Linked DNA regions of Homo sapiens. The protein of the gene in region 5 purifies or fractionates together with the protein of the main gene of each other region. This does not show direct contact. Each region holds a gene or a part of one and is shown on either strand. Other genes may lie near its edges. The genes, in order: CTSB, SETMAR, UBE3C, DSG2, CLEC16A, SDF4 and SRR.

The links.
Region 1: the proteins of CLEC16A (region 5) and CTSB purify together in Homo sapiens (affinity purification with mass spectrometry, with the first as the bait; one study listed by BioGRID). This does not show direct contact.
Region 2: the proteins of CLEC16A (region 5) and SETMAR purify together in Homo sapiens (affinity purification with mass spectrometry, with the first as the bait; one study listed by BioGRID). This does not show direct contact.
Region 3: the proteins of CLEC16A (region 5) and UBE3C purify together in Homo sapiens (affinity purification with mass spectrometry, with the first as the bait; one study listed by BioGRID). This does not show direct contact.
Region 4: the proteins of CLEC16A (region 5) and DSG2 purify together in Homo sapiens (affinity purification with mass spectrometry, with the first as the bait; one study listed by BioGRID). This does not show direct contact.
Region 6: the proteins of CLEC16A (region 5) and SDF4 purify together in Homo sapiens (affinity purification with mass spectrometry, with the first as the bait; one study listed by BioGRID). This does not show direct contact.
Region 7: the proteins of CLEC16A (region 5) and SRR purify together in Homo sapiens (affinity purification with mass spectrometry, with the first as the bait; one study listed by BioGRID). This does not show direct contact.

What each region holds. Positions count from the first base shown.
Region 1 is NC_000008.11:11,854,588-11,858,087, forward strand, and holds part of CTSB (cathepsin B isoform 1 preproprotein), read right to left. Parts: intron 3,354-3,500; exon of another isoform or gene 3,271-3,353; intron 1-3,270. UniProt on the Homo sapiens protein: Thiol protease which is believed to participate in intracellular degradation and turnover of proteins. Cleaves matrix extracellular phosphoglycoprotein MEPE. Involved in the solubilization of cross-linked TG/thyroglobulin in the thyroid follicle lumen.
Region 2 is NC_000003.12:4,301,895-4,306,168, reverse strand, and holds the start of SETMAR (histone-lysine N-methyltransferase SETMAR), read right to left. Parts: upstream 2,801-4,274; 5' UTR 2,799-2,800; coding exon 2,643-2,798; exon of another isoform or gene 2,498-2,642; coding exon of another isoform or gene 2,301-2,497; exon of another isoform or gene 1,690-2,300; coding exon of another isoform or gene 1,567-1,689; intron 1-1,566. UniProt on the Homo sapiens protein: Protein derived from the fusion of a methylase with the transposase of an Hsmar1 transposon that plays a role in DNA double-strand break repair, stalled replication fork restart and DNA integration.
Region 3 is NC_000007.14:157,141,926-157,145,425, reverse strand, and holds part of UBE3C (ubiquitin-protein ligase E3C), read right to left. Parts: intron 1-3,500. UniProt on the Homo sapiens protein: E3 ubiquitin-protein ligase that specifically catalyzes 'Lys-29'- and 'Lys-48'-linked polyubiquitin chains.
Region 4 is NC_000018.10:31,518,677-31,522,176, reverse strand, and holds part of DSG2 (desmoglein-2 preproprotein), read right to left. Parts: intron 2,375-3,500; coding exon 2,240-2,374; intron 1,375-2,239; coding exon 1,213-1,374; intron 1,079-1,212; coding exon 934-1,078; intron 95-933; coding exon 1-94.
Region 5 is NC_000016.10:10,943,270-10,947,363, reverse strand, and holds the start of CLEC16A (protein CLEC16A), read right to left. Parts: upstream 2,801-4,094; 5' UTR 2,647-2,800; coding exon 2,567-2,646; intron 1-2,566. UniProt on the Homo sapiens protein: Regulator of mitophagy through the upstream regulation of the RNF41/NRDP1-PRKN pathway. Mitophagy is a selective form of autophagy necessary for mitochondrial quality control.
Region 6 is NC_000001.11:1,216,431-1,219,216, forward strand, and holds the end of SDF4 (45 kDa calcium-binding protein isoform 2 precursor), read right to left. Parts: exon of another isoform or gene 2,504-2,786; intron 2,498-2,503; coding exon 2,339-2,497; intron 2,204-2,338; coding exon 2,028-2,203; intron 1,375-2,027; coding exon of another isoform or gene 1,259-1,374; coding exon 1,082-1,258; 3' UTR 501-1,081; downstream 1-500. UniProt on the Homo sapiens protein: May regulate calcium-dependent activities in the endoplasmic reticulum lumen or post-ER compartment. Isoform 5 may be involved in the exocytosis of zymogens by pancreatic acini.
Region 7 is NC_000017.11:2,302,731-2,306,749, reverse strand, and holds the start of SRR (serine racemase), read right to left. Parts: upstream 2,801-4,019; 5' UTR 2,733-2,800; intron 274-2,732; exon of another isoform or gene 1-273. Other genes in the region: SMG6 (telomerase-binding protein EST1A), read left to right, coding at 3,030-3,117. UniProt on the Homo sapiens protein: Catalyzes the synthesis of D-serine from L-serine. D-serine is a key coagonist with glutamate at NMDA receptors. Has dehydratase activity towards both L-serine and D-serine.

The DNA.
Region 1 (3,500 bases), on a different chromosome or scaffold from region 5:
CCAGGTTCTTAGCCTCCCAAGTAGCTGGGATTACAGGTGTGCGCCACCACACGCACCTAATTTCTGTATTTTTAGTAGAGATGGGGTTTTACCATGTTAGCCAGGCTGGTCTCGAACTCCTGACCTCAGGTGATCCACTGGCCTCAGCCTCCCAAAGTGCTGGGATTACAGGTGTGAGCCACCGCACCCAGCCAGTGGAAAAGAGCTCTGACGGGAGCCCAGCCCTCTGGGGCAGCACATGTGTCGTAAAATGCTGGGTGATGCTCATCAGCACAGCACCCAACGGACCACTCAGAAGCACATCCTCCGTGGAGGAATCAGCGTTACCTAGGTGAGGCCAGAGAGGAAACAGGACAGTGCTTGTACAAGTGGCTGCCTGAAGTCTGAATCTTCACACTGGACTCCTCACACACAAAAAGTACCACATGCAACACAGAATTGTTTTGTTTTTTTGAGACGGAGTCTTACTCTGTCCCCCAGGCTGGAGTGCAATGGCATGATCTCGGCTCACTGCAACCTCTGCCTCCTGGGTTCAAGCTATTCTCCTACCTCAGCTTCCCGAGCAGCGGGATTACAGGCATGTGCCATCATGCCCAGCTAATTTTCATATTTTTAGTAAAGACAGGGTTTCACCATTTTGGCCAGGCTGGTCTCGAACGCCTGACCTCGTGATCCACCTGACTCAGCCTCCCAAAGTGCTGCGATGACAGGCGTGAGGCACCGCACCAGGCCCACAGATCTTAATTTAAAAAGTTTTATGAAAAAAATCAATGCCCTTTGAAAAACAGGCTGGGTGCGGTGGCTGATGCCTATAATCCCAGTACTTTGGGAGGCCAAGGCAAGTGGATCACTTGAGGCCAGGTGTTCAACACCAGCCTGGACAACATTGTGAGACCCCATCAATATAGAAAATAAAGTTTTTTAAAAAGGTAATGCTGGAGGAAAGCTTAGGATTGACAGGAAACACAGCCTTCAAGGGAAAATGCTTGCATTACACTGAAAAGTCTCTTTAAAACAAAAACTGACGAAACAAAGCAGTACTCACATATACTTTAGGCTTCGTTTCCACAAAAGGCTCTTCAAAGTCAGAAAAATGGAACCAGCATAATAGAAAAACTACAAATGGCCAACACAGATAAAAATAAGTTCAACCGGCATGGTGGCTCAAGCTTGTAATCTCAGCACTTTGGGAGGCTGAGGCAGGTGGATCGCCTGAGGTCAGGAGTTTGAGACCAGCCTGGCCAACATGGTGAAACCCCGTCTCCACTAAAAATACAAAAATTACCCAGGTGTGGTGGCAGGTGCCTGTAATCGCAGCTACTTGGGAGGCTGAGACAGGAGAATTGCTTCAACTCACTTGAACCCAGGAGGTGGAGATTGCAGTGAGCCAAGATTTCACCACTGCATTCCTGCCTGGGTGACAGTGAGACTCTGCCTCAAAAATAAAATAAAATAAAGTAAAATAAGTTCAACCTCAGGGAGGTGCAGATAAAATCAAGGAGGTATTCAGCATGTATCAGATTGGCAAGGGCTGGACAGTTTGGCACTTCTTGCAGGGCTTAGGAAGTGGGGAAACGGAAGGCATGATAATGAGTGCCTGGGGTGGGTGGGCACAACCACCGAGACATCAACCAGCAACGCCCACCAGTTTCTAAATCTGCATGTCCTGGAAATGAATCAAGTATCCAATAACAGAGTAACTGTTAAATTACGGTAAGTGGTTAAATAGAATATGAAGCAACCATTAAAAAAGCAATTAGTTGGTGGGGCACGGTGGCGCATGCCTGTAGCCGAGGCGGTTGGATCACCTGAGGTCAGGAGTTAGAGACCAGCCTGACTAAGGTGGTGAAACCCTGTATCTACTAAATACAAAAAATTAGCCAGGCGTGGTGGCGCATGCCTGTAATCCCAGCTACTTGGGAGGCTGAGGCAGTAGAATCACTTGAACCCAGGAGGCAGAGGCTGCACTCCAGCCTGGACGACAGATTGAGACTTCATCTAAAAATAATAATAATAAAATAAAAGTAAAAAACCAACTAGTTGAAGTGAATTCTATTGTATTAACAGAGTAAAAATGCCCCAAGTCCCAATGTTAAGTGGGGAAAAAGCAAGCTGTGGGTGACTGAGGACCATAAGCATCTGACCCTCTCAGCAATCTACACATGTAGGAACACTCCTGCCACTACATGCAAAATGCCAAGGAAGATGCACGGCAGTCGGTCACTACGGTGGGGAGACTTTTTTTCACAACATACCCTTACTTTTAAGAAAAAAAAAAAAGTGAGTATGTTCCTATTATTTCAGTTTTGTTTCTTCTAGGAAAAATAGTTGGCAGTATTACTAAAGGCCCTGAGCCACCAAACTGATAAAAGGACATTTGTTTTAATGATTCCTCAGAGCATTTCCAATTTGGTCTTCCTTCCCACCAATGAGGCTTCCTCCCTAGTGACTTTGAGATGGGAGTCTCGCTCTGTGGCACATGCTGGAGTACAGTGGCGCAATCTTGGCTCACTGAAACCTCTACCTCCCAGGTTCAAGTGATTCTTGTGCCTCAGCCTCCTGAGTAGCTGGGATTACAGGCCTGTGCTACCACGTTTGGCTAATTTTTGTAGTATAGTCCGTGTTTCGTTATGTTGGCCAGGCTGGTCTTGAACTCCTGGCTTCAAGGGATCTAACTGCCTCAGCTTCCCAAAGTGCTAGGATTACAGGCATGAGCCACTGGACCTGGCCCCTAGTGACTTTCTTAATAATCTTCCCCTTTTCCGTGACTCGTGGGTAGGCAGCGTCTCACGTGGCCATGCATGTCAGTGACCCACACAGCCTCCACACTGTGAGGTTAGCATGTCTCGTGGGCAGACAGCAGTGTCCTTGGATGTACCCGGGGGCTTTGTGCTGTAGAGATGTTATTTTAAATAATAAGCCAAGTCGAGGATGGGAGCGTTTCCATGGCAACTTGAATTTTAAAACCAAGATTTCTTTGGTTACTGTGGTGGCTGAGAACACAGGCAGCTGCCATGTCCAGTGGCTCTCAACTCCTGGAGGACAACCTGCCGTGGCCATTCCCTGGAGTCCCACAGGGCCCCCTCGCCACTTCACTAGCAGGCGACTTCCCTGCACCCGCCCTCCTTTTCATGGTTCCCAGGCCCTCCCACACCTCCCTGTGCTCCCTACTCATTCCCAGGCTCCCCGGGGCCACCGCTGCCAGCCCCAGGGCCCAGCCCATTCCACTAGTCCCAGGCTGAGCGCTGGGAAGTTCTTTCAGCCCCGCACCTTGGCCCAGGGCTGTGGTGTTCCTGGCTTCTCTGCTCCTCCCCTATGGTATCCAGGTTGGGGCTCAAGGGGCCGCCAGCGTGCTGCAACCGGACGATAAAATGAGCCCTGCACTTGGAGTCAGGAGACCTGCATTTGGATCTGGCTCTGCCACTGACTAAATGGCACCCTTGGGGTCTGACCTTCCCCAAGCCTCAGTTTCACCACCTATAAAATGGAGCTAGTAACCA
Region 2 (4,274 bases), on a different chromosome or scaffold from region 5:
AATAGTCTCAAACGCACACACACACGCACGGCAGGAATATTGAAGCTAATCGTGACAGTTGTAAACACCTTGAGGGTAGAGTGCGTTTTTCTGTTTGTTGTATTCTTTGCAGCCCAACCCACCACCTTGCATATATTTAGCTCTCAATAAATATTTGTTGAATTAAGAATGGACTAGAACAGTGGTTTTTTAAATCAGTGTTTTTGACCAGGAACTCAGCAATGCTTAGTCCTAAGTTTTCAGGGACCACTGTTTAATATTGGGCCAGCTAACTGTATTATTAACTATAAATTGCCAAAGGTAGTCTGGGGAACAATAATAATTTCTGACATTAATATCTTATTCTACTCTTTGAGGACTAAACTCTGATTTTTTCTTATCTTGCCCAAATTCCTACCCAAGGCACCTGGGGAGTCATGCCTTACAAACCATAAAGTCTCATCAGAGGAGTTTTAATTTTAACCCTATATAGCATGGTCTGCTTTCTACCTGACTCTGGCATAACATCAAATAACAAATAAGGGAAGAAATCAAAATATTTTAACCCCAAATATATTTCCTTGCCATATCTTGAAATTGCCCTGGAGGGTTGTCTCTTGTGGGAAAAATCCACATTCTATAGAGAATCCCCTTTCCCCCTCTTTTTCTTTCTTTCCACAACAAGGAGATAATCAACTAAGACCGAGGCACCTTTTTAAGTTAGATAAGAAACATTTTACAACCTGCTCCCTCTGAAGTCAGCTGGGAGTCTCCTCCCCACAATTAAAACTTGGGTCTCTACATGGCCGGGTGCGGTGGCTCACGTCTGTAATCCCAGCACTTTGGGAGGCCCAGGTGGGTGGATCACTTGAGGTCAGGAGTTTGAGACCAGCCTGGGCAACATGGTAAAACCCTGTCTCTACTAAAAATACAAAAATCAGCTGGGCGTGGTTGTAGGCGCCTGTAATTCCAGCTACTCGGGAAGCTGAGGTGGAAGAATCGCTTGAACCTGGGAGGCGGAGGTTGCAGTGAGCTGATCGCACCACCACACTCTAGCCTGGGTGATGGAGTCAAGCTCCGTCTCAAAAAAAAACCCTTTATCTTAACCTAAACATTTCTATTGATCCCAGGTCTTCAGACAAACTCAACCAATTGTTAACCAGAAAAATTGTTAACCAGAAAAATTAAAATCTACCTATAGTCTGGAAGCCCCCCCCACCACTTTGAGTTGCCCCGCCTTCTGAACCAAACCCATGTACATGTTAAATGTATTTGATTGACGTCTCCTCTCTCCCAAACATGTATAAAACCAGGCTGTGCCCTAACCACCTGGGACACATGTTCTCAGCATCTCCTGAGGGCTGTGTCACAGGCCATGGTCACTCATATTTGGCTCAGAATAAATCTCTTCAAATATTTTAGAGTTTGATTCTTTTCCTTGACATCTTTGAAAGCTGCTATTGAATCTCTTATCTTATCTGATCCTCACAAAAACCCCTAGGAAAAAGAAAGGGCAGATAGGGTTCATTGTTGATAATGGATGTTAAAGGGGCTATGCATTTTTAAATTATTATTTTCATTTTGCAGATGAAGAAACTCAGGCTCTGGGAAGTAGCTAAGATGTCTAAGCTCCGAACCATACTCTCCAACTTCCACGTCCAGCGCTCTTTCCACTTCAAAATCTTTGGTCATTCCTTATTCCTTGGGTAACGCTCAGGCCAAGGTCGGAGGGATAAGAAAGTCAGTAGAGGCTGGGAGCGTGGCTCATGCCTGTAATCCCAGCATTTTGGGAGGCCGAGGCGGGCGGATCACCTGAGGTTGGGAGTTCGAGACCAGCCTGACCAACATGGAGAAACCCTGTCTCTACTAAAAATACAAAAATTAGCCGGGCGTGGTGGCCCATGCCTGTAATCCCAGCTACTCGGGAGGCTGAGGCAGGAGAATCGCTTGAACCCGGGAGGTGGAGGTTGCGGTGGGCCGAGATCGCGCCAGTGCACTCCAGCCTGGGCGACAGAGCGAGACTCAGTCTCAAAAAGAAAAAGGAGAGTAGAAAGGGCTTTGAGGTAGTTAATAGAAGCAAACATTTACTGAGTTCTTACAGCAAACCGGAAAGTGTATTTTCCTTGCCATTTTCAAAGCACTCCGGAAGAGAGGTACTGTTCCACTGTACGCTGGAAGACTCTAAGGCTGAGCCACAGCTAATTTACACTCGCCCAAGAGCCCACAGCGTGAGGGAGACCACAGCTAAGGCTGACTCGAGGGGCTGTTTTTATGCACGACACCGGCTGCGATCCATTAATAGGCCCCACGGCTTATCCTACCTGTGAGAGACACCTGAGACCAGGGAGGTAAATGACTCCCCCCGTGATGCCTCCTTGAGTTCTGAGGACAGGACTGGACAAAAAGCCAGGTTCTCACAAGGCCTCCGGTTCTGCGCTTCAGGGAATGGACTGAAAAGGACAACACCCTTGCTAAGGTGATGCCGTGGGTCAACAGAAAAAGGCCCAGGCCGGGGCATGCACACCTATTCCCGCGCACCAACGGGTGCGCTGTAAGAGAAGACAAAAGGTCGCGACTGGGAGGCCGTCCCAGCGAGGCGGCTTGAGGAGACCACGTGGGGGAGCCGCGCGCCCGCCTCCCGCGCCGCCTGGCCCCGCCCCTACCTGGAAGGGCGCCGGCGCGGCCCCCGGGGGCCACGCGCCCACCGGCAAGTTTTCCTGGCCGCACGCGACATCCAGCTGCTCAGTCGGGGCCTCAGGCTTCTCCTTAAACTCCGCCATCCCACAAGGCCGTGTCGTCTTTGCCGCTTCCGCGAACATTTACCCGCCTCACGCAACGCCCACTACCCTGACAGTCCTGGGCCGCGCGGTGGATGCTGGGACTTGTGGTCCCGTGGCCCCACCGCCTCATGGGAATTGTAGTTCGTTTCTTCTCAGGAGTGGCCTGGAAGGCGCTTCCCTTCCTTGACTTTTTGGGTCTGGCTCCCGTTTTGATTTCAGCCAGAGGCACCACAGATAATTACAAAACCATGTAAGGTACGGACGAAACAAAGTGAGGTGCTTTAGTTTTTCCTGGGAGCATCAGAGAGGGGGCTTTCGAGGTGAGGTCATTTGTCCAGGTTTTTGAGGGCTCACTGCACGTTTGTGGAGTGGAGGCAGGGGTGCGTTCTAAACCGAGCGGGGAAACGCACACCAAGGTTTCTAAAGGTCTGCGGCTTGCCGGGAAGTTGACTGACATGTGATAGGGTTTGTGCCAAGGCGATAGCCTCACAGGGTGCCTTAAGGAATTTGTGTGGGGGCATGCTCACTCCCTGATGGAGGTATCCGTGCCCCTTTGCCTGTCCTTTTCCCTCCTCTCCATCCCTCTACCCTCACCCCTCCAAACCCCTGCCCTGCCAAAGGATTCTGATAGCCTCAAGACTGCTGAATCCGGTGGAGCATTTTCAACCTCACTGAAGCTCTCTGACATGATTGTCCTGCTTCTCCTTGAAACTGTAAACCAAAAATAAAATTCCAATCCTCCAAACCATCTGAAGGGACCCCTCCTCTCTGCCAAGGTTAACCTGAGAAAGTGGTTCAGGCCATGATGGGAAGGGGGGTCCAACATGCCTCATTATGCCCTTCTTCCTTTTGGAATTCAGGAAAAGCCAGCCAGCATCAACATCAACACACACCTTAAGTCTGATAAGAAACATTTACAATCTGTTCTCTGAAATTTACCTCTTGGAGGCTTCATCTCCACGATCAAATTTGGTATCCACAACCTCTTATTGCAACCCAGACATTCGTTTCTATTGATTTTAGGTCTTTAGATAATAACCAGTTGCCAATCAGAAAATCTTTAAATCTACCTATGACCTGGAAGCCACCCCTCACCCGCTTCTCGTTGTCTGCCTTTCCAGATCCAACCAATCTTACATGTATTGATTGATGTATTATGTCTCCCTAAAATGTGTGAGAGTAAGCTGTATCCCAACCACCTTGGGCACATGTCATCAGGACTGCCTGAGGCTATGTTGGGGGCGCATTCTTAAGCTTGGGAAAATAAACTTTCTAAATTGAGACCTGTCTCAGATAATTTTGGGTTCACAAACCCTTCTGACCTTGCAGCTTCTGAGGTCCCATTGGCCTAAATGTGTTTCCATCTTGCAGACCTTTCCTTGTTAGTATCCTCTTGTTGTTTTCCTGCCTGACTGTTTCTGAAAAGTGGGTGTGATTCAGGGTTCTGCCCTTGACCTTTTTCTTTGCTCCCCTTCCCTGAACTTTCTCATTAATAACATCCACTCCCATGGCTTC
Region 3 (3,500 bases), on a different chromosome or scaffold from region 5:
CTGCCTCAGCCTCCTGAGTAGCTGCAATTACAGGCACCTGTCACCACGCCTGGCTAATTTTTGTATTTTTAGTAGAGATAGAGTATCACCATGTTGACCAGGCTGGTCTCGAACTCTTGACTCCAGGTGATACACCCTCCTTGGCCTTCCAAAGTGCCGGGCCTCCTCCTTTTTTCTTTTTTTTGGAGACAGAGTCATGCTCTGTCACCCAGGCTGGAATGCGCTGGCACAATCCAGGCTCACTGCAACCTCCACCTCCAGGGCTCAAGTAATTCTCCTGCCTCAGCCTCCCACGCCCAGCTAATTTTTTGTATTTTTAGTAGTGACGGGGTTTCACCACGTTGGCCAGGCTGGTCTCAAACTCCTGACTGCCTACCTCGGCCTCCTAAAGTGCTGGGATTACAGGCATTAGCCACCACACCTGGCCAGCAATGAGGATTTCTAGGGCAATGACACTCTTCTGTATAACGCTGTAAGGGTAGATACATGTCATCATATATTCGTCAAAACCTACACAATGCACAACACACAGTGTGAACCTGAATGTACACTATGGACTTCAATTAATAATAACACATCGACATTGGTTTATCAATTGTAACTGATGATCCACATTAATGCCAGATGCTAGTAATAGAGAAAAGTGAGGTGAGGGAGACTAGGCATATGGGAACCCTACCCTCTGCTTGATTGTAAACCTGAAACTGCTCTAAAAAATAAAGTCTATTTTTTTTTAAAAAAAGCACTGGACAAACATTAAAGTGATCTTAATTCTACTCCCACTATTGTCAGATCTACAAAAACTTAAAAAATTTCAGTTCCTCCGGTCTACAAACTTTTCTATATCCATATTCATCCCTAGCTTCTTTAAGTCTCAAAATATTTCCCATTGCCTGCTCCCACTCAGTTCTCCCCTCTCGGGTATTCTCGAAGACTCTGAAAGTTATGCCACTCCTGTCTTCCCCACATTTTTAACCCCCGTCCTTCCCAGTCTATAAACTTAAGTTTCCCCCGTCTCCCAAAACAGACAAAACTATTTCCGAGACACCGAATTTCCCTCTATCATCCAATCTTCCGGTGCTTTTCAAAAAAGGTCTACACTGTTGCCTTGCCCCTGCCTTATTTTTTAAGAGATGGGGTCATGCTGTGTCGCCTAGGCTGGAGTGCTATGGCATGATCACAGCTCACTGCAGCCTTGAACTCCCGGGATCCAGCGATCCTCCCGCCTCAGTCTTCGGTGTGGCAGATTGTAGGCGTGCGCCACAGCATCCGGCCTGTGTTCGGCCCTGTTTGTGACTTCCCATTCACTCTCCAATGTGCTATGCTCTTGACTTCCAACTCTGACTACCCTACAGAATATGCTCAAATCACCCAATTCTTCCCAGCTCCGCAGTCAGTGGACTCACTGTGTCTGTGCAGCACTTGGCATTGCCTGTCACTCCTCCCTCCCTGAGATTCACTCCCTGGACACCACTCTCCTCCACTCCCGGAGGTGTGACTCTTTTGTAAGTATCCCCAACTCCCACACATATTAAATGTTGCAGTACCTCACGAGTCCCACCCTGTCCCAAACTCCAAGTCCTCTTAAGGACCTGTGTTCGAAGCCACCATTCTGTTGATAACCCCCAAATCTGCATCTCTAGCCTAGACTCCTTCCTGTGCCTGTCCCACAGGAACTCAGGCATTCAGTCAACGACCACTCCCCGCTTCTTGAAGAATCTACCCCAGCCCTCAGGTGCACCTAGACTGTTCCATCTGAACCAAGCCTCCAAGCCCTCCTCAGACTGAGGTTATCAGGTGGAAACATGACCCAGGCCAATCAGACTTTCCTCTCCTGAAAACTGGTAATTATGATCAAACTTTCTTGACGCTTAAGCTAGGAAACCATGTGTGAGAAATGGAGAAAGCCAGTCTGCAGAGCCAGGAATGAAGGAGACAGGAAGAAGGGAGTGCACCCAGCTCCTGGAGAAAGACAAGCAACTCCTGTGGTGGTGATACCTGCTATCTGGGTGTTTCTGACCTTTCTATTCTGTCAGACACGCCTATCCTTTCATAAACTTGTTTTTGTTTCTTTTTGTTTTGCCTACTAAGCTAGTTTTAGTCCATTTCTGTACTTGAAATCAGATGACCCCGTGATATTCTTCTATACACTACCAAGAAAAACATACCCCCAATTAAACTGCATCATGCTATCAGTGTGTATCCCGATGTCAGAAATATTTAAAGATAGAAATCAGTGTGACTTAAAAAAAAATTTCAGGCTGAGCGCAGTGGCTCATACCTGTAATCCCAGCACTTTGGGAGGCTGAGGCAGGCGGATCACCTGAGGTCGGGAGTTCGAGACCCGCCCGACCGACATGGAGAAACCCCATCTCTACTAAAAATACAAAATTAGCCAGACGTGGTGGTGCAGGCCTGTAATCCCAGCTACCCGGGAAGCTGAGGCAGGAGAATCGCTTGAACCCGGGAGGTGGAGGTTTGTGGTGAGCTGAGATCGCACCATTGCACTCCAGCCTGGGCAACACTGCGCTCCAGCGTGAGCGAAACTCCATCTCAAAAAAAAAAAAAAAATTCAACTTTTATTTTAGAGTTAGGGGGTACCTATGCACGTTTGTTACAAGAATATACTGCAGGACGCGGAGGTTTGGGGTGTGAATGATCCCATTACCCGGGGAGTGAGCACAGTTACCAACAGGTAGCTTCCCAGCCCTTGTCCCCGTCCCTCTCTTTCCCCCTCTAGTAGTCCCTGGTGTCTATCATCCCATCTTTATGTCCATGTGTAATCAATGTTTAGCTCCCCAAAGTGACTTTGAATCAATGTAATCCAATCTACATGTACTCCACACACCCCGCTCCACGAACCTGGAATGCCTTCTCGTCTTCCACCCATCCTAATTACACCCATCCTTCAGGACTAAGCTCCAAACAATTCTACTTTTTCTGAATCAGGACCAAGGGAAATTTAGAATGTAGCAATTACTCTATTGTTATTTAATTTTTAATTGCTTAAGTCTTATCTGCCCAACAAGATTATCAACTTCTTCAAGTCAGACTTGTCGTACACAGATCTATACAAATAATAAATACTAAAAGTATTTAATTTGAAAAAAGAAAAAGCTTATTCAAAGGTGGTAACCACTCCATTTTCCACTAAGCTCCAGAAAGGGAAGATTTCAAATAATAATTTAAGACATGAGAAAAGGGTCACTATAACTTCATTTTTCCAACAAGGGAAGGGACTTATGCGGCAGTCAAAGAGAATTCAGGAAAACAAGCATATGTAGGTGCTCAACATAATTAGTTGTCAGGAAACAAAATTAAAACCACAAAGAAACTACATCCTCACTAAAATTAAAGGACTTGCAATATCAAGTGTTGGCAAGGATGTGGAAACCTGGATACCTTCAGATGCTGTGGGCGTGCGACACGGGGAAACTGTGGCAGCGGTGTGCACAACAGCTGAACATGCGTATCATCTAGGACCCAGCACAAGAGTATTA
Region 4 (3,500 bases), on a different chromosome or scaffold from region 5:
GCAGGCTCCAGAGATACGATTCTATAGGAAATTTTCGAATTCAGGGTATTGGGCTCATCTGCATCTGTTGCATTGATTTTCATCACAAGAGTATCTGGCATTAGAAATAAAGATGTCTAAGATGAAATTCAACTTTAAGCATATTTACCTGTTATTTTATTTATAATTTTAGCTTGTTCCAAAAAAGATTTCAGGTGCTTATCAAAATCACATACAGTTGACCACAATATAACATTTAACTGGATGAGGACATAAGCGTGAATGGGATATAACAATAGTAAAAACAAGATGAAGGCAAGGCTGAGGGTAGAGTCCTGAAAAATTGCTGTATAAGGGCACAGATTTGTTTATAATAGTATTAGTAGCCAATACAAAGAAAGTAACATGAGCAGGTACATGATCCTGATATCTATTAAGATACAAACAAATCAGGAGAAGCGTAACTATTCCTTACATCATGGTCAAAAAGAAATCTCTCATTCGGGTCCTCATGAAGAGCACTGTGTTGAACAATGTTGTGAATAAATATTACAGTAAAAATAATACAACTTACAGGTCAGCAAACTATAGCCAAAGCTGTAGGGCCAAAGCTAACCAGCCACCTGTTTTTGTAAATGAAGTTTTATTGGACCACAGCTAGGCTCATTTGTTTACATATTGTCTATGGTGCTTTCCTGCAGATAGCAGAGTTGAGTAGTTGCTACAGAGACCTTATCCATCACATTAATCTACCCTATCTGTTCTGAGGGTAAAAGCAATGGCATGTAAAGTCCTTTAAACCTATAAGGAAAGCAGTTCTGAACTGCTTTCTTATCATTTGTTCTGTAGGTAATACTCAACTTTCATTAAGATATGAAATTTAGTGTTTATTTACAGTGGGGATAAAGTAATCTTAGGTATTTATTTATTAAAAAAAAAAAAAAAGACTCTTACGTGCTGCACTCAACTCTTCAACAGACCCAACAAAGACATCCTGTGTGAACACTGGTTCGTTGTCATTGATATCAAGAACCTTAATGCGTAGCTCTAAGGGTTTCTCTACATTGTTTCCTCTTGCATCCAAAGCGTAACCTGTTAGCTGAAATCATGACATAAATAAGATTAGATTTAAGCTAAGAAAACTAAATTACCATACTATGAAAAAATAAAACAAATGACACTTATTATGACAGAAAAACTACAAACTAATAAATCTAAAATTATTCTTCTTACCAGAAAAAATGGTGTTTCTTCTCGATCAAGAATGCTGGTAACATTCAGTTCTCCAGTATCTTTGTTAAAGACAAATATACCAAAAGGTGGCTCTGTAATCCCTTTTCCAGTGTATTTGTAAGTAATTTTGAGTCCTCTTTCTTCTGCAAGATCAGAATGTATCTAACATAAAAATAACAGGAATGTTTCAGGTTGAACTCTCTGTAATTTACTAGATTTGATCTTAGCCAAAAGCCTAAGAAGTGATTCTCTATAATTTACAGGTAAATATTTTTATGGACAATTTCCTTCTGAAGTTCTTTGGTAATACAGGCCAGAGATGACATGACTTGGACTAGGGGAATGGCAGTGGAGTTGAAGAGAAGCAGCAGATTTGGAATATATTTTTGGAATAGAACTGATAGTGTGTGGTACATTTTTGGCTTGAAAAACTGGAGAGAATTATAGCATCAATTACCAAAATGGGTAGAACTTATGAAGAAAAGCTTTGGGGGGAAAAAAATGAAGGGTTTATGTTTGTGCATGCCAACTTTGAAATATAGAGTAGCAACACTATCACATAATTTATCAAAAAAATTGGACCCCTTGAGAGTGAAAACACAGATATTAATTATTAAGCCAGGAGAGCAGGCATAAACCACGACTGTCTCAGGCAGATGAAGATGGTCCCCCTACCTAGTAATAGACACCAGTTCATCTTGAAAATGACATTTTATGACATCCTCTTTTGAGCACTGAACATTTTGTGTTACCAGTGCCAAATCCCTTTACTCTTAGTTAAATCAAAACTCAAAGTTATCTATATTTTTGCCAATGATGCTGCATCTTCCGGAATGGGAAAGAGAATCTTAAAGTTGATACTTTATGCTAAAAAGTAAGCTCTGCTAATTTTCAGATATATCTTGAATATTTAAAAATTCTGTAAGCACATCATACATTTTCCTTAAATCTTAAAGTAGACATAAAAGTCCTCTCACACCACATTTTAGTCATATGCATGTATTTCATGTTCCTCTTTAGGAGGTACCTTGGCAATTGGATTCTTCTTGGACAGATCCTCTCCCTCCCGAAGAGCCACGGGGGCGGTGATCCAGGCGCGCTTTTGCCGCACTAAATGAGGATGTTTAGGAAGCAGCTTATTTTCATTTCTTGTGCTTAAGACCTATAACAATAGAATATTGCCAAAATTTATTATGTGTCATAAATATAGAACATTAGTATGCTGTCCTATAACATAATAAACTTTTAAATAGTGCAAATTTTAAGGTATGCTTCGTATTTCCTATGAGGCTTCATTGTCTAAAAGGGAATATATATATTCTAGCAAACTGCATAGGGCCTCAAGAGATTGTCTCCAAGCTAGTAAAAGTGTAGGGTTTTTTCTGGTTTATTTTTTCTTTTGAGACAGGGTCTTGCTTTGTCACCCAGGCTGGAGTGCAGTGGCATGATCTTGGCTCACTGTAGCCTTGACTTCCCCGGATCAAGCCATCTTCCTGCCTCAGCCTCCTAAGAAGCTGGGATTACAGGCATGCACCACCACATCTGGCTAATTTTTGTATTTTTAGTAGCTATGGGGTTTCACCATGTTGCCTAAGCTGGCCTTGAACTCCTAGACTCAAGCCTCAAGCAATCCGCCCGCCTCAGTCTCCCAAAGTGCTGGGATTACAAGTGTGAGCCACTGTGCCCAGACAGTAGAATTTTGTTTTTAACTGTAAGAAATGATTTCCCAGAGTGAGAGTTTGAAAAGTTTAAAGAATCATTTAGTAGCCTTACAAATTGGCAAAGTAAAAAATAACAGATCATGTCAAAAACGTTTTTTCTTATTAACTGAAAATGAAGTTTCATTTTTCTGTGGTGGTTTGTGGTTTAAAAATAAATTACTAAATGTTTTTTAAGGCTAAATCTTAGTAATCTATTGATATAAACTTGACTAAAACCAGGGAAACTGCCAGTTAATGAATTTATTGTTTTCAGGATTGGGTAAAGAATTAAATTTCCCATTTCATTTTCAGAACCTTAGGCAGAAAACCATTCTATAAATTTCCAGTTGGGTTTTACAGGTGAATATATATTTTATCCAAGGGAAATTTCAATACAGCTGACCTGGGATCTTAAGATCAGAAATAATCCTTATACTAGGTTTGGTTTATCATTTTACTCATTTTGTTGCTCTATGTAATAGGTATTTTACTTCAAAATATGTACTCTGGTTATCACTAGGTCATTGATTTTTTTTTTTACTTGAACAAAATTTTCTATGACAAAAAATTGAAATTACTTTTTCATTT
Region 5 (4,094 bases):
CCCCACCAGCCTGCAAACTCCCTCAGGGAACGAGCTGTTCTGTACCCAAGACCCAAGATGTTTACCAACAGAGCCAAATGCAGAGTGGCACAAGCCCCAGGGTGGGCACTGGCTGTTTACAAAACTCTTTTCCAAGTCACTGGGGGATCTTCTAACCCCCCCACCAATACACAAATCTCAGGTTCTTGGGGCTGTAATATGGATTAAGCTGATCTGCCTGATTCAGGGCAGGCAACTTGGGTTTCCAAAGAAGCATCCGATAGACATGTGATCTAAACAATGAACCCAGGCAGTTCCCAGGATACTGCAAAGGAACCAGAGACCGTTTACCATTCCCTGCTGGCTGGCAAAGATGCCCCATTGGCGATGAGACTCAGCCAAGTCAAAAGTGTTCTCAAACAGACTTATTGGGAAGTTTTATTCAGAAAGACAGTATAATGAGCACAAGCTCGGGAGTCAAATCCTGCCTCTGGTACCCTTCAGCTGCTGACACCTGGGGGCAAGTCACTGAAGCCCCCTGAACCTTAGTTTCCACTTCCGTAAAATGGAAACAATAATGGTTCCTGTAACTCAGACTTGTGAGGACTAAGGGAATTAACACACAGGCAGTCCTTAGCAAATACCTGGTACAGAATAATGCATTCGATAAATTAATAAATTAAGGTAATTTAAAAGGGCTAGAGTTAAGCAGAGTTAGGTGAGAACCTGGAGGTACCTGGATGCCGGCAGGAGGCCCAACCTCCTCTGGATAACTCCCCTCCCCTCCTCAGCCACCTCCGCCCACTCGATAAATTCCTGAAATCCTTCAACCACTCCCTTTCCCGGCCAGCTGCCCTCCCATCTAAGATCCCCACCTCCCTACCCACCCCAGACTTGTCCTGGGCCTCTTTCCTCCCCTTGTCTTCTCTCACCACCTCCTGCTCTAAAAGTGCCCCTCACCACATAGTGAACCCTCCTGCTCCCCACTCTTCAAGACTCACAAACGTTTACTAAATGCTGCTCCATGCTAGAAAGGTCACAGCTGAGAACTGTGGCCCTGCCACTACCCCTACCCCACTCCCGGGGACACATGAGAAGTCCCTATCTAATTCCCTCCCACCAATCCTTTCCACAGCCCCGTCTCCCTTCCACTACTTCCCACCATATCCCTAACCCTATCTTCCTCCTTTCCCATTAGTAGTCTCAGGATCTCCTTCTGGAAACCTGCCTATTTCTTGACACTGAAGATTTGTCTACTCCCCTCTTCAGCATCCCCGCCATTTCCCTCCCTAAAGCCTTTCCCTTCATACAGATCTCTATTTTTCATCATCCTCCACACCTGCCCCCAAATCCTGGGTCCTGGCCTGCATGCTCTTCATCTCTCCCCAATTCAATCATTCATTTTTCCACTCTTTAAGTAAGCAGAGAGCAGTCCTAGATGCTGGGAATACAACTGTGAACAAACCAAGCAGTCTGTGCCCTCGTGAAGTGCCAGTTTAACAGAAGACAGAAAATAAGTATAAATAAAAAATAAAGAATAATCGCAGAGAGTGGAGAAGCACTCAATGAAAGCAAGAGAAAGATGTGATGGATAGGAACTGGGATGGGGGGAGCACGTTAGGTAGGGTGGTCTGGGAAGGCCTCGCTGAGCTGATAATAAACACAGCTACCACTACTGGCCACCTACTATGTACCTACTGGGTCAGTCACCTTCCATTTCCATTACAATGTTCACGATCCCCATTTGCAAATGGGAATCTGGAGGCTCAGAGAGGTGAAGTAATTTGCCCAAGGTCACACAGCCAGTAAATGGTGGTTTCAGGATTTGAACGCAGGTGTGGCTGCAAAGCCAGCCTCTTAATTTCTGCACTCCTGGTCCCAAGACCCTATCTGCCACCTGTCCTCCCCCAGAGCTGTAGAGTCATTCCCTCCTCAGAGGTCTCTATTTTTCATCATCCTCCCCAATCGCCCCAAAATCCTGGGTCTCAGCGTGCATGCCCCCAGCTTAGACTCCCCTCGGAAAATAATCTGTTCTTTTATAATAATTAATGCCGTTTAATGAGCAATTGTACGTGTTCTGAGCTTAACGTTCATTCTCTTATCCAACCAACTCTCAACACAATAGCAGGAAGCAGGTGCTGTCACTCTACTCTTTTTACAAGTGGGGAACCTGAGGCCTACATTCACACAGATAGATTCGGACCCAGATCTGCCCGACTCCAGGACCCAGGCCTTTGACCCTCTAAGCTGTTCAGTTTAAGAAGTACCCCGCCAGGAAACTTGGTGGACACCGTCAAGAACAAAGTCTGTGTCCATAAACTGAAATCGCATCCTCTCGCTTTACAGGTGGGGATACGGAGACTCTGAGAAATTAAGCGACTTGTCCAAGGTCACACAGCCAAGAGCGACGGGGTCAGGGTTCGAACCCAGGCGCCCTGACTCCCGAGCCCTCGCTCTTAACCACCACACGGGCTTCCCCGGGCGCCCTTCGCCGCCGCTCTCACGCCTCCTAGAGCCCCGACCCGGAGCTCGGCGCCCCGTCCCCCTGTCCAGCCCCGAGGCCTCCCGCTACGCCCCCCACACTCACTTGAGGTGGTCCAAGGAGTGGATGTTGCGGGAAGTCTTGCCATGGCCCCCGCCCACCCAGCTCCGCGAGCGGCCAAACATGTCGGCGGCCCCGACCCGTCTCTCGTCTCACGGTCTCATGCCGGACCAGCAGAGCGGCCCAGCGCCCGCGGCGGTAGCACAAGCGGAGGATGCGGCGGCGGAGGCGGTGGAGGAACCGCGAGCCGCCTTCCTCCCCGGCCCACAGCCCAGCACTGACATTCAGCCGGAACCGGCCGTTCGACCGCCGCGCTTTACGGCCGCCGCCGCGTGGGGCGCTGGGAAATGCAGTTCACCCGCGTGGCCTTCGGCGGCAGGACTCCGCGAACGGACTACAAGGCCCGGCATGCATCGTGCAACCGCGGGCCTACGGCCATCCACAAAAGGCGGGGCGAGAGGAGGAGCGACCGCAGAATCCTCCGGGTGGGCGGGAATTGGAAGCTTTGGGCGCAGTCCCGGAGAGGGAATCGGCGTAGATGGGTCAAGGAAAGTCACCACTGTAGTAACAATTACTAGATTTATAATAAGAATAAGAATAGTATTGGATGGTGTATACTATGCAAAGCCACTATCCTAAGGGCTTTACATATTAAGGTATTTAATTTTCACAACCATCCTATGAATTGGGTACTATTATCGAACCTATTTTATCATCAGGGAAACGGAGTCACTGAGAGGTTGACTTACCCAAGATCATGCAGTTAACAAGTGGCAAAACCAGGGTTCATAACCACGCACGCACCCTTATTTTTCATTCCCTTTATAAACCAAAACGGCACTAGATAACAACCTTATTTGTCCTGACAGCCTTTTTCTTTTTCCACTTCAATTAAGTGTGTGTGTGTGTGTGTGTGTGTGTGTGTGTGTGTGTGTGTGTGTGTGTGTGTGTTGGAAAAGGCTGGATGCAACAATGCACCAAACTGAACATTTTGTACTTCCAGAGGATTCCTCTGGTCTTCAGCCAGAATCCATGCTATTTCCCAAAGTACCACGTTAAAATGAAAAAGGAAACACCCAACTTTCTGCATGAGCCAGAATATATCTAACTTCTACCCTGGATTAGAAGTGGTAAGTTCAGTGTGGGCAAGACTTCTCAAGTTTACCATCCATTCATTCATTCAGTCACTTCTACATATCAACCTTATTAAAGGTCCACTGTGTCCCATTAACTCTGCTCAAGAAAGAACTGGGCCAGAGGCCAATGTTCTCCCCAGTGCCTAGCACAAGGTTTGGCACATAGCAGGTGTTTAACAAATATTGGTAGAGTGCATGAATGAGTAAAGGTTTGTTTCACCTTCAGCAGTTGGAGAAATGGATAAGAGTGGAGAGTTAATGGTTTGTCCTGTAATTCATATAGAGTGGGGCAAGACAAAGTCATGGAGCAAAAAAGAACAGGATCTGGCCTCCAAAGAAACACACCCAGGCTCAGAAATGTAGGATCCCTGGGCTCGTATTTTTCATCTGTAAAAAGTACGCACATACATACTACACTGCCTTGTATACCTCCGATT
Region 6 (2,786 bases), on a different chromosome or scaffold from region 5:
CGGTCACATGGGCACCACAGGGCAGACTGAAGAGGACACACTCCCGGCTTCCCTGAGCTCCCACTGGGAGAGCCAGGACACAGCCTGGGCCCCCACACGCCACAGAGCAGGACCCCCACCAGCCGTCCTAACACACCCCATTCTCTGCCCCATCTGGGGCTAGGCCTGCCCCACTGCACCCAAAGACCTTGCCATCCTCCACCCAAAACCCCCAGGCGGCTCTGTCTCCTGCCTTAAATGTCCAAACCCCAAACTCAGTGGGCACGTCTGCTGCCCCCTGACCCCTACTCACAAACGCAGCGCTGCCCTCCGTCCTCCCAGAGCCCCTGCCCGTTGCCACCTGCCAGGAGAATCACCTCGAACCGGCCATGACCTCCAACCCTCCACGTGACCCAGCACCAGCCTCCAGCGCTCCAGTGGAAACTGTAACCACAAACCTAGCACGCTGCTGTTGTGTTTTGTTTCACGCCCAAAGAATGAAGCTGACCAAAAAAGGCAACTATATTTAAAGTAAATGTATGTGATTCTTGTCACAACAAATATTTGCATTTTCTCAGCGGCAGCTGCGGGACCTGGGTGGCTCCGACACGCCAGGCCCGGGAAGGACCCGGCACCCTCCCCTGAACTTCCTGGCTACTCATTTCCAGCGAAGTTTAATCTATTTTTAATAATCGTTCAGTTTTCAAGGAAATGGAGGAGCTGTTTTTTCCCACGGAGCGGCGGCCCTGGGAGGGGCCGGGCCCAGAGGTTCCGGCCGCGATGCCGTCAGCGCCTTCGGCAGAGTGACTGAAGCGAGATTTCGTTCTCAGAAGTGAGATGCCACGATTTCGAGGGACCAGGGAGGAGGCGGCGCCGCGGGGCCACAGCCCAGCCCCGCGCCCCGACCGCGTCACAGCCAAAGCCCCGCCGGGGTGCGCGCTGCAGAGGGGACACGCCGCTCATCAACTGGGGCAGCCGCGGTCGGTCGGCCGGTGGCGGGCGGCAGGGAAGAGGTGGGGTCCGGGACAGCCACGGAGCCCGGAGTCACCCGCGAGGCCGCCCCGGTGGTGCGTGGGGGGCGGCGCGGGGCGCGGCCGGGCGCTCAAAACTCCTCGTGCACGCTGCGCGCGTAGTCCACCAGCTTGCTGCCCGTGAAGAACTCGCTGTACTTGAGCACCTCCTCGGGCTCCAGGTGGTGGTTCTGGTTCTCGTCGGCGACGGCGATCATCTGCTTGGCCTCGTTCAGCGCGTTGTACTCGTTCATGGGGTCCATGTAGCTCTGCGGGCGAGCGGGGCACAGGTCAGCGTCGCCTTTCCCCCTCCGAGCTCCGCGGCCAGCCGCACGAAGTGGCTATTTAAGGTGCCTATTGGCTGCAGCGGGAGTGTGGGCACGTTCTGGAAGGTTCCCGAAGGGAGGCGGCACAAATGAAAACACAGGGCAGGGAGAAGCCGGGGGCCCCGGAAGGCCTGCCCGGGGCCAGCAGGGGTAACGGGGCACAGGGGCTACACAGGCCTGGACCCCAGTTCTGAAGGATCCCTAACCTGGGCCGGGCCCACTGGCTGTCGCCAGGAATCACAGGATTCTACATAAAAACAAGATGACTCACTCAGCAGTGGGAGAAAAACAAGCCTACACATGATACCAGTGAAAACGCTTCAGAGGAAGGTGGTAAATTCCAGCCATGTGGCACAGGCCGCCCCGCCCACCTGCACCTGCTGGGCCTTGGACCTGCCTCCATGCTGGGCCCAGCATGAGCTTCCCCTTGTGGTCCCGTTAAAAAGGGGCTGTGAGAACCCTGACGCCTCCGCAAGGGGCTGAGGATGGAGCCCGGCCAGGCTCGCCTGTCTCTGATCCGTCTGAACCTAAACGCCAACAACGGCCATGCAGCCTGGTGGACACCGCTGAGCAAACGCCCCAGTGACCAGCCCAGATGGAGTCTCAGGCCAGACACCAGCACAGCTTCCTGCCTCAGGCCCAGATCCACCAGCCCCTCCCGCCACAGCACCTCGCAGGGCCGGCTCCGGGACACGGCTGCGCCAGGGCTCACCTCCAGCTCCTCGGCGGTCACGATGCCGTCGTGGTTGGAGTCAATGAGCTCCTCAAACTCCTTTTTTCTGTCTTTCACCCAGTTGTCGTCAATGTCCTGGCCCTGCTGGTTCTCCACGGTGCCCACGGGCAGGGAGATGAACTCGGGCACAGAGAGCTGCTTGTCACCGTCCTGGTCTGCGAGACGGGAATGGGTCAGCCCACACCCAGGCTGGGGCTCCCGCAGGACCTGCCCCGACCTCCCGACGATGCCCGGCCCCTGCCAGTCGGTCCTGGGTCCTGGCGTGCCGGCCAGGCTGGACCCAGCCTCACCCAGGTCCCGGACGATCTCCTTCACCATGAACCTGAGCATTCCCCGGCTGTGCTCGGGGTGGAGGAACGACAGGAACTCCTCCTCCGTCAGCAGCAGGTCTGCAGGGGGGCTGTCCGCCTGGTACCAGCGGTCCTTCAGGTTCTCCAGGACTTCCTGTGCTGAGAGGGGCGCAGCCTGTGGGTATCGAGGCCGACAGACGCCAGCACGCAAATCCAGAAAGTTCCGAGAGGTGCTGCCTGAACTCGAGGGACACAGCCACCCGCGAGACCGGGGCCCCACCCTCCAGGATTCACACGTCCCCAGAACATGGCCCAGCCCCTAAGACACAGCCTGGACCCCCGCCAAGACATAACCCAGAGCCTCCCACAGGCCTGATCCCCAAAGGCATAGCTTGGACCCCTCCACACAGCCCGGACTCCCCAAGACAGCCTGGACCCCCCCCTGCCC
Region 7 (4,019 bases), on a different chromosome or scaffold from region 5:
ATGGGTGGAAAGTGTTTGTTTTGTTTTATTTTTGAGACAGAGTCTCTATCTGTCACCCAGGCTGGAGTGCAGTGGCGTGATCTCGGCTCACTGCAGCCTCTACCTCCTTGGTTCAAGTGATTCTCCTGCCTCAGTCTCCCAAGTAGCTGGGATTACAGGCACCCACCACCACGCCCGGCTAGTTTTTGTATTTTTAGTAGAGACGGGGTTTCGCCATGTTGGCCAGGCTGGTCTCGAACTCCTGACCTCAAGTGATCTGCCCACCTTGGCCTCCCAAAGTGCTGGGATTACAGGCATGAGCCACGGGGCCTGGCCTAAAATTGTTGTTTTTAAAAAAATTCCAAATGGTTAGAATGTTTTGCTTCATTTGTGGCTATTCACTTCTAGTTTTATTACTTTGTGCTAAGTAAATATGACCTGTACAATTTTTTTTTTTGACGGAGTCTCACTCTGTCGCCCAGGCTGGAGTGCAGTGGAGCAATCTCGGCTCGCTGCAACCTCTGCCTCCCAGGTTCAAGCAGTTCTCCTGCCTGAGCGTCCCAAGTAGCTGGGACTACAGGTGCCCGCCACCACACCCAGCTAATTTTTTTGTATTTTAGTAGAGATGGGGTTTCATCTTGCCCAAGCTGGTTGGGAACTCCTGAGCTCAGGCAATCTGCCCACCTCGGCCTCCCAAAGTGCTGGGATTACAGGCGTGAGCCACCGCGCCCGGCCAACTTGTACAATTTTTACTTTTAGAAACTGAATTCAAGGCTGGGCGCGGTGGCTCACGCCTGTAATCCCAGCACTTTAGGAGGTTGAGGCGGGTGGATCACCTGAGGTCAGGAGTTCGAGACCAGACTGGTCAACATGGTGAAACCCCATCTCTACTAAAAATACAAAAAATTAGCTGGGCATGGTGGTGGGCGCCTGTAATACCAGCTACTCAGGAGGCTGAGGCAAGAGAATTGCTTGAAACCAGGAGGCAGGTTGCAGTGAGCCAAGATTGTGCCACTGCACTCCAGCCTGGGCAACAAGAGTGAAACTCCGTCTCAAAAAAAACGAAAAACAAAAAATCTCAGCAGCTTTCATTGTGATACTGACTTAAATATGGTTGTCTTTCTTGTCATTTCTTTTTACCTGGTATTTCATGAATTCTTTAAATCTGATAATTCAAAAATTTCCACCAACGTAGTAAATTTTCTTCTACTATTTGATTATTGCTCTTCTGCAGTCAGCTGTATTATCCCCTTCTGGAACTCGTATTTAATTATTAATTTTTTGTACCCCTTCTCCATGTCTCCTATCTTTGTCTCTCAGTTTTTATCTATTACCTTTTCCTTCTGAGTTCTGGTAAATTTTCTTGAACTGGTTTAACTTTTGGCATATCTAATCTGCAGTTCACTGACACTGTTGCATTAAATGGGTGGTGCCATTTGTCCTAAGAAAGTTTTCTTGTTTTCCATTATTTTTCCAGCTGAAAAAAGAAATCATGCAATGGCCTCTCAAATTTCAATATGAAACAGATTATTTTTTAACGCTTCTTCCTATTTCTCTCAAATCTGGTGGCAAAGGCTGTCTTCTGCTCTGACCACTCAAATGGTTCCTCTTCTGAACTGTTGGATCTTTTCACCCATCATCTACTGACTTTCTTCTTATGCTTAACCTTCCGGTGACAAAGTGTCACGTAAAAGGAACTGAAGGAGTTCTGTCAGAGGTTGTGGCAATCCCTTCGGCTCAGACTAAGGAATAATTGGTAACTATTCTGTGATGGGTGTGGGGTAAAAGCCTATGGGGCTGTGGAGGGGCAACAGGTGGAGGCAGGAGGCCTTGGGGAAGGGAGCTTCACCTCTGTACAGTTCTCCAAAAAAAGATTCAAGTACCAGCCTTCTGGTATAGTTCAATTTTAAAGATGGGAAATTAAAAAGTCAACCTGAGATCCACAGCAGTAATTTTTTTCAAGAATCCATAGTGACACAGAAATTCCCAAATTGACTTTTTTTTTTTTTTGAGGCGGAGTCTCGCTCTGTTGGAGACTCCCGGGCTGGAGTGCAGTGGCGCGATCTCGGCTCACTGCAGTCTCCGCCTCCCGGGTTCAAGCGATCCGCCCGTCTCAGCGTTCCGAGTCGCCGGGATTACAGGTCCCAAATGGACTTATATGCCTCCTGATGTACTTCCTTCCACACGATTCCAACTATATCGTATCTAGTTTTTAAAAGTCAGGGGGCGGCCGGGCGCGGTGGCTCACGCCTGTAATCCCAGCACTTTGGGAGGCCGACGCGGGTGGATCACCTGAGGTCAGGAGTTCGAGACCAGCCTAGTGAAACCCCGTCTCTACAAAAAATACAAAAATTAGCCGGGCTTGGTGGCGTGCACCTGTAATCCCAGCTACTAGGGAGGCTGAGGCAGGAGAATCGCTTGAATCCAGGAGGCAGAGGTTGCAGTGAGCCGAGACCGCGCCACTGCACTCCAGCCCGGGAGTCTCCAACAGAGCGAGACTCCAACTAAAAAAAAAAGGGAATAGTAACAACTACTCTTAGCAGATCTTCAAGGTCCCAAGTAATGGCCCGCGGCGCTAGGCCGGGCCTGTGGCGGGAGAGCCTGGCCTAAGGTGTCCAGAGGAGCCCAGGCTGAGGGGTGTCTCTGTCAACCCGAGTCCCAGACTAGCAGTGTCCTTGGTGTCCACGACAACAGCAACGGCAGCCACCGCCGCAAACGCCCGCCTGGCCTGGCACGGCCCGGCCTCGCCTCACCTCAGCTCACCGGCGCCGCGCCTCCAGCTCCAGCCTCCGCGCGCCTCCCCGGCCGCACCTCTGCGCACGCGCAGCGCCCGCCCGCCCCACCCAGGCTCTCGCTCCGGTCCCGCCCCTCTGGAACCGGCGGCGGGCGCTTTTCCTCCCAGCGCGGCCACCGTCGTTCGGAAAGGGAGGGCGGCAGGGGGCGGGGAAAGGCCGGGAGGTGGGCGAGCGCGCGCGCCGCCCGTCTGTGGTGGTTTCCTGGCTGCGCGCGGCGGTGGCGGAGCCGCTACGGCTGTAGCAGCAGCCGCGAAGATGGCGGAAGGGCTGGAGCGTGTGCGGATCTCCGCGTCGGAGCTGCGCGGGATCCTGGCTACTCTGGCCCCGCAGGCCGGGAGCAGAGGTGAGTCGCGCCGCCCAGCTCCTGGGCCGGGCCTGCCCGCCCCGCCTCCCTCTCCTCCTCCTCTGCCTCCTCCCCGCTCGGCCCTCGGCTCCGGAGCCCCCGCCCCTTCCCCCAGCAGTAGGCGCTGGGGCCGCGGCGGACCCTCGCTGCCCTACCTCTCTCGCGGGTTAGTGCGGGGTCGGGCTCGGCCAGTCCTGGCCAGCTCCGGGAGAGCCTGGCCCGAATTCCTGCCTCCACCCTCTTTCTCGCCGCGAAGGTGACTGTTCCTTTTGCCCCAGCCCTCTCAGACCCGCCCCGGATTCCCAGGCATCGGGAGACGCGGAAAGGAGTGGGGTCTGGTGGAGGCCCCGGGCGTATCGCTCTCCAGGCCGCCCTCCGCGGGCCTGCCCCGGCCACCGCTTTAACGTCGGAGAGAAGGAATTGGGGAGAAAGGTTTAAGAGCCTGCGACTTCGTTGCTGAACTTTTCCCCCCCAAGACAGGCTTCCGAAAGCTGCGCCACTGGAGGGATCCGGGACCTCAGACTACTCGGGTTTGGCCCTGGCATGTGTGGGAGCAGTTTTTATTAGAGAGAATGCTCAATTTGCAAGTTAATTTCAAGTCTCCAGCCACGTCAGGAAAGTAAGAAAGATTCTAAGTGTCTCACCTCTCCTGCGTTAGGCAATAGAGTTGTGTAGAATGGTAGCTGTGATAGGTGCCTTCTCTAGGTTTGCGGCCAGTCTGTGAAATTGGTTTTTGTTGATTAACATAATTGGATTATTAAGGCTATTTTCTCCCGCTGCTCTAGAAAGTAGTAGGAATAGCTTTCCCCATCCCCCCGCCCCCCACCAAGTTACAGACTGCCGAGGGTGAGCTATTCTTGGGTTAAACTGCTTTATCTTTGTGGATACTTCATGAACCTACC